Linked DNA regions of Homo sapiens. The protein of the gene in region 1 purifies or fractionates together with the protein of each later gene. This does not show direct contact. Each region holds a gene or a part of one and is shown on either strand. Other genes may lie near its edges.

Evidence for each region.
Region 2: the proteins of NEBL (region 1) and NAXD purify together in Homo sapiens (affinity purification with mass spectrometry; one large-scale study listed by BioGRID and IntAct). This does not show direct contact.

The regions. Positions count from the first base shown.
Region 1 is NC_000010.11:20,813,757-20,817,577, forward strand, and holds part of NEBL (nebulette), read right to left. Parts: exon of another isoform or gene 3,749-3,821; intron 1,962-3,748; coding exon 1,869-1,961; intron 288-1,868; coding exon 183-287; intron 1-182. UniProt on the Homo sapiens protein: Binds to actin and plays an important role in the assembly of the Z-disk. May functionally link sarcomeric actin to the desmin intermediate filaments in the heart muscle sarcomeres.
Region 2 is NC_000013.11:110,629,042-110,632,862, forward strand, and holds part of NAXD (ATP-dependent (S)-NAD(P)H-hydrate dehydratase), read left to right. Parts: intron 1-3,821. UniProt on the Homo sapiens protein: Catalyzes the dehydration of the S-form of NAD(P)HX at the expense of ATP, which is converted to ADP.

The DNA.
Region 1 (3,821 bases):
TTTATTAGACTAAATGTTTCCACTGCATTTCAGTGTGATTAGAAATGCCCCTCCCTCAAAAGACAAGCCAACCACATTTCCATGCTTTGTTAGTTATCGGATTAATAGTGAAGTAATGCCATCCGTGCACTGGATCCGCCCATTCCTTAGCATGTTTTAAGAATGATCTGGTTGGACCCTACCATTGAAATATGATTTTGTGCTTCTTTAACATGTCTCATAGCAGGTGTATCTAAAATCAGACTTGGTCTACCTTTCATCTGTTTATGGTCCTGGGTATATTTTACCTGCAAAGTAAATAGTAGGCATAAGACAATGATAAGAAAACACATGATGTAACATTTTTAAGCTTTACAAATGAGTGAAACATATGCAACATACTTGAAATTATTTTCCAGGTAACTATTTCAGTGAATTAAATTTTGTTCTAGAATAGCAACCTAAAATTTTACAATCAAAGATCTCCTCCACCGCCTACTGCTAAATGACCTAAATCTATCAACTCTAAACAAATGTGTGAATGACCAATAGTAACTATCTATCTAGTCTGTAAACCTGCGCAAGCCCGAGGACTCGTATCTGTAATCACAGCACTTTGGAAAGCTAAGGTGGGAGGATGACTTGAGGCCTGGGATTTGAGACTAGGCTGGGCAGCACAGTGAAACCCCCCATCTCTACAGGTAAAAATTAAAAAAAAAAAAAAATTAGTTGGGCGTGTGCCTGTAGTCCCAGCTACTTGAGAGGTTAAGACAAGACAGCTGCTTGAGCCCAGGAGTTCAAAGCTGCAATGAGCTATGATTGTGCTATTGCATTCCAGCCCGGGCAACAGAGACTGTGTCTCAAACACACACATACACACATACACACACACACACACACACACAACTGGTTATCATATTTAAGTTAAACAGAGAAAATCCAAAACTATTAAATAGAACCCAAAGTTATTTTGTTTCTAAATTTCCCAATTTTCTACCATAAGAGTGTTAAAAAATGCATACAAGCTACTCTATTTCTTTTTATTTTTTTCTCTGCTTAGGGAATAAGAAACAATGAGGAACAAATTTAGTTGTTCTTCTAAGCAGCCACAACTTAAAGGTAATTTATGTTAAATACACACAGCATCTCTGGACAGAAATGTCACTAGGAAGCTGTAAATTGCAAAGCCTAAATGCTGATTCTCAGGCAAACAGCTATTCAGGGTATGCTAAGAAAAGGGCCTGTGTTCTTCACAACTGCCCATCAGAACACCGCCATTTATGAAACTGATTAGGTGTAAGATATGGATACCACTTACTGTGGACCTGAGGGCATTATGTACAATTCAGAATTGAAGCCCTGATATTCACTAAGAGGAAGCACAATATTCAGATAAGATACTCATGTACACCACTGGACTTTGGTGAGCAACTGAATTCTACGTTAACTGTATTTAAGGATTCTTTTCTGTAAGTCTTTAGTGGGGGTAATGATCCATCTCCTATTTTGTTTTGCAGACAGCATTTAACAATCCATGTTCAATGAAATATTTCAGGAAAATGACAATTATTTAACGCACACATCAAAGGCTTTACCACCTTCAAAGACACGGCTAACATATCATGAATCGTTGTTTAAATGAATATAATTTTAACCTAAGCTTTGAATGTAACTGTTGGTCACATCTGGAAATAACAAAGAGTTGCAAAATAATGTAAATGTTTGCAGTGGCAGCTTTTGGAAGTCATCTGAAATAACACATGTACTTATTGGACACATCACAAATGTTTCTTGAAAATAAGTTTTATTTTCACAAGCAAAGGAGGACCGCAAGTAAATAATAAAAGACACATCCTTTGTGATAGTCTAAAATGAAGAAAACCACTTGCCGAGCTAATATTTTCTTGATTCTTCTTCACTCTTTCCATTTCAGGAGTTACACTTAAAGTGGTAGCTCTTCCCAGCTGACCTCTGTAATAAACCTATCATTTCAGAGAACAAAAAATAGAATACTATGAATCAATTCAACAAAGAGACTTATTTATTTATTTAAGACAGGGTCTTGCTCTGTCACCCAGGCTGAAGTGCAGTGGTACAATCTTTGCTCACCACAGCCTCGATCTCCCAGGCTCAGGCAATCCTCCCACCTCAGCCTCCCAGGTAGCTGGGATTACAGGCACCTGCCACCATGCCTGGCTAATTTTTGTATTTTTGTAGAGATTGAGTTTTGCCATGTTGTCCAAGCTGACCTGAAACTCCTGGGCTCAAGTGATCCACCCACCTCAGCCTCCCAAAGTGCTGGGATGACAATCCTGAGCCACAGTGCCTGGCTCACAGTATTTATTTTAATGAGTTAGTCAGGGAAGTTTTGTAGGAAACTACAAAAAATATTTTCAGAGGTTGAGTTGTATTTAAAATGCTGGCATCTTAAATCAATCTATTTCATTTCATCCCATAAGAGAGTACATGTGTCCAAATCACTGTGGATGTACTCGAATACATAGGCATACCATCCGTAAAGCTGTAATAAATATTTAACCACAAAAGGAAATGAGAATAAATGTCTTCATGGAGATTACTTAAAGGTATTCACCGTAGACTGGTACTACATGGTCGTGGTTTCTTAGGAATTAACTGCGGCAGAATTTTTGTAAAGATGTGTTTAAATAGGTGACTGTGGGCATCCTTTAAAAAGCCAGCATGCTTCTCACTGGTCCACTCCTTGTCTAAATAACCATGTTCCTTTTTGAGAATAATGGAGTCACATCAAGTATGACTCTAAATATATGGGGGAAAGATGAGCGTCTACTTCTCTAAAATATAGTTGTTAGGAAAAGTATCAATCACCTGCCTTTGCATTATAAACTGGTAAAATGACTTTAAAGGTGTGAAGAATAAAAGATTTCTTTGAACGTAATAGATTTCCAAGTTTCCTCTTCCAAAGAACCCAATCTATATGTTAATGACTGTAAAAGAGGACTTTCTTCTTGAACTGCATCCGTGAATTATTTCAACAACAGGGAATCGGAGCAGGCCACAAGTTGGTGTCTAGGTAAAAACTGCCAGCCCCTTATTAAGTGCCCCCAAAATGGTCCTGTCCAATATAACCTATTCAGCCATGCACACATTATCATTTCTTCCTAGACTTTGCCCAAAAATGGAGTCATGATTGTGGGAAGTGGAAAGTGGGGCTCGGAGGAAGCGCAAGAACAGGAACACATGCTGGTAGAAAAGGGAGGGAAAATGTTTGTTTGTAGGGCCAGGATGCCAGAAGCTACGACTGTGGGACTTGAGGAGACCATAGCACCCATCAGCTAGATGACAAGATAGAAGGGATACACAACAACCTGTCAAAAAAAGTCACCCAGGCCCGGTGGCACACATCTGTAATCCCAGCACTTTGGGAGGCCAAGGTGGCCGGATTGCATGAGCTCAGGAGTTTGAGACCAGCCCAAACCCCGTCTCTACAAAAAATACAAAAATTAGCCAGGTGTGGCAGCATGTGCCTGTAATCCCAGCTGCTTGGGAGGTTGAGCTGGGAGGATCACTTGAACCCAGAAGGCAAAGGTTGCAGTGAGTCAAGATTGTGCCACTGCATTCCAGTCTGGGTGACAGAGCAAGACCCTGTCTCAAAAAAACAAAAAGAAAAAAGTCATCCTGATGAGTCACTGGGAACCCTGAGGTGGGGAACACCTGACTGTACCCACAATACCAAAGTCCCCGAAATCTTTCAAATAAGTTGTTAGTCAAATGAGAACAGGACATCAGCTCAAGGTTATGAAAATTCTATAAATACAATCCCTTCATTCACACGTGGACAATGCATTTGATAGTGTAAGAAA
Region 2 (3,821 bases), on another chromosome or scaffold:
TCTTGAGAGCCCTCAGGTCATCTAGCGTGGGCTGCCGCCTCCTCGTCAGCTTCCAGCTCGTGTCTGGTGCGGAGCAGAGGCTTCCTACTTCGTCGACGTTCCTGAATGAGGTCATCATCTGGTGTAGGCCTGAAAACAACCCGATTAGGTAGATTCCTATTCATAGCCCCATTCTTCTGATGACAGATTGAGTCCTGGCAAGGATTCAAGACGCCCGTGGGATCTGGTAGCAAAGAAACTGCAGAGATGGTTTTTTAAAAACGACTTTATTTAGATGATTTACCTACCATACCCCTCACCCATTTAAAGTGAACTATGCGGTGGCTTCAAGTATATTCATAGTTGTGCAACCATCACCATGATCAACCTTAGAATATGTTTATTGCCTCCAGAAGCAGCCCATCCCCGTTAGCATCTGCTCCCTGTTCCCCAGTCTCCCCAGTTCCTGGCAGCCACTCAGCTAGTATGCTTTCTGTCTCTCTGGATTCGCCTGTTCAGGACATTTCATATGAATGGAATTATGCAACGTGTGCTATTTAGTGATTAGTTATGTCACTCTGCATAATTTTATATTTAGAGTTACCTGTGTTGTAGCATGTATCAGTATTCCATTCCTTTTTATATCTAATATTTCACTGTATGCATACACCACCTTTGGTTTATCTGTTGATTAATTTATGGAAAATTGGTTTCCACTTTTTGTGTGGATGTGTTTTCACTCTCCTGGGTGTTAAGTGTTTCACATTTTGAGGCCCTGCCACTGTTTCCCATAGCGGCTGCACTATTTTCCATTCCCTCTAGCAGTGTGCGAGGGCTCTGATTCTCCACATCGTTCCCAGCACTTGTTACTGTTGTTGTCTACTTAGCAGCCACTCTAGTGGGCGTGGAGCGACCTCACTGTGGTTTGGTTTGCGTTTTCCTGGCAGCTGATGCTGTTGAGCATCTTTGCATGTGCTCATTGGCTGTTTGGGTATCTTTTTTTTTGTTTTTGTTTTGTTTTGTTTTTGAGACATATTCTCACTCTGTCACCCAGGCTGGAGTATAATGGCGTGATCTTGGCTCACTGCAATCTCCACCTCCTGGGTTTAAGTGATTCCTTTGCCTTGGCCTCCAAGTAGCTTGGACTACAGGCGCCCACCATCACACCCAGCTAATTTTTGTATTTTTAGTAGAGATGGGGTTTCACCATGTTGGCCAGGCTGGTCTCGAACTCCTGACCTTAGGTATCCGCCCGCCTCAGCCTCCCAAAGTGCTGGGGTTACAGGCGTGAGCTACCATGCCTGGCCTCTTTGGGTATCTTCTTTGGAGAAGTGTCTATTCATACCCTTTCCCCACTTTGAAAACTGTTTTTTGCCTTTTTTTTATTGACTTTTAGGAGTTCTTCATATACGTTCTAGACACAGGTTCCTTATCAGAGAGACGATTTGCCGATATCCTCTCATTCTGTAGGTTGTCTTTTCACTTCGATGGTTTTGTTTACAGCACAGTTTTTAATTTTGAAGTCCAATTTAGCTGTTTTTTCTTTTGTCCCTTGTGCTGTTGGTGTCTTATCTCAGAAGCTTCTGCCTAACCCAAGGTTTACTCCTACATGTTAAGAGCCTTATTGTTTTGGTTGTTACTTTAGCTCTGCGGTGCATGTCGAGCTGATGCTGGTGTGGTAGGAGGAGGCTCCAGCGTCAGTCTTTTGCTTGTGGGTGTCCAGCTGTTGCAGCACCATGTGCTGGAGAGACTCCTTTTTCCTCCCAACTTGTCATCCTCCCTGACAATCCGTTGACCCTAAATGTGAAGGCTTATTTCTGGACTGTTGTTTCTGTTTTGTTGATCTGTACAGCTGTCCTGCAACTGCCCGGTCTTGACTGCTGTGGCTGTGTAGGAAGCCTTGACGTCGAAAGCCCGAGTCCTCCAAATTCGCTCTTTTTAAGGTTGTTTTGGCTCTCCTGGGTCCCATGCATTCCAGTTTTGGATCAGCTTGCTGATTTGTGGAATAGGCAGCCGCAACTTTGGTAGGGATGATGTTGAAACTGAAGATCAGTTGGGGGAATGTCTAACAACATTAAGTCTTCTGGTTCCTGGGCTGGCTTTGAACCCACGTTGTCTGAATCTGGAGCGCAGGCTCTTGACCAATGCACCTGTCCTCACACTGTGCTCTTTGCACACTCGTTAACAGTGTGTCCTGGAGACTTTTTCATGGAAGGATATGTGGATACTCATTATTTTTAACAGCCACATCAGAATTTATGGATCTACTACAGTGTATTTAGTTCATTTACACTGTTTTCAGCTTTTTCTTCATGTTAACATCAGTGGTGTCCTGAATCTATGTGTTTTGTGCACTCTTTTGGGTGAAGTTCCATTGCTGAATCAGAGTAAGGACGTTTAAATTTTTGAGAGATGCCCCCAGATTTCTCCCTAGTGTACCAAGGTTTGCTTTCCCATGGGTGGGGACACCCTTCTGCGCTGGGTGCTCTGATGCTGCAAACCTTTCTAGGAGACCCATGTAACATTGCATTTTCCAGGGTTTGAATATTCACTTTTGAGTACTATTTGCAAATACATTAAAAGAAAACACAGAAACAGATGAAAATGTCAGATTGTTGCCAAATACTGCAACATGAAATCAGAAACTGATCTAAAATCTGAATTAGCAAAAGCCTGCCAGTTTTAACAGTAAAGCCAAACTCAGGGCAAGCAGACAAAGAATTTTTATTGTTAATAAAGGGAATAATAAACTTCCATGAAGTCTCAGGTACCTGCCTCCCTGGAAGGGGCTTCAGGACACACTGCTAATGCTCGGACCAGTGTCAGAGCCAAATACACACTTTCCTATGGCTGGAATGTGCGTCATAAACAGGCTGAAATGAGCACTTTGTTAGGCGAGCAGCTAATGCTTTGTCAGCTTTCAAATTTCATTTAATATACACGGCTTTAGTTTTCAATACTTTAAATTATTCTTAGCATGTATTTTTATGTCCAGAATTGGTGGGTTCTTGGTCTCACTGACTTCAAGAATGAAGCCGTGGACCCTCGCGGTGAGTGTTACAGCTCTTAAGGTGGCGCGTCTGGAGTCTGTTCCTTCTGATGTTCAGATGTGTTCGGAGTTTCTTCCTTCTGGTGGGTTCGTGGTCTCTGTCTCAGGAGTGAGGCTACAGACCTTCGCGGTGAGTGTTACAGCTCTTAAGGCAGCGCGTCTGGAGTTGTTCGTTCCTCCCGGTGGGCTCGTGGTCTCGCTGGCTTCAGGAGTGAAGCTGCAGATCTTCGCGGTGACTGTTACAGCTCATAAAAGCAGTGTGGACCCAAAGAGTGAGCAGTAGCAAGATTTATTGCAAAGAGCGAAAGAACAAAGTTTCCACAGCGTGGAAGGGGACCCGAGCGGGTTACCAATGCTGGCTCGGGCAGCCTGCTTTTATTCTCTTATCCGGCCCCGCCCACATCCTGCTGATTGGTAGAGCCGAGTGGCCTGTTTTGTCAGGGCACTGATTGGTGTGTTTACAATCCCTGAGCTAGACACAAAGGTTCTCCACGTCCCCATCAGATTAGTTAGATACAGAGTTTCGACACACAGGTTCTCCAAGGCCCCACCAGAGCATCTAGATACAGAGTGTCGATAGGTGCACTCACAAACCCTGAGTTAGACACAGAGTGCTGATTGGTGTATTTACAAACCTTGAGCTAGATACAGAGTGCCGATTGGTGTATTTACAATCCCTGACCTAGACATAAAGGTTCTCCAAGGCCCCACCAGAGCAGCTAGATACAGAGTGTCGATTGGTGCATTCACAAACCCTGAGCTAAACACAGGGTGCTGATTGGTGCACTCACAA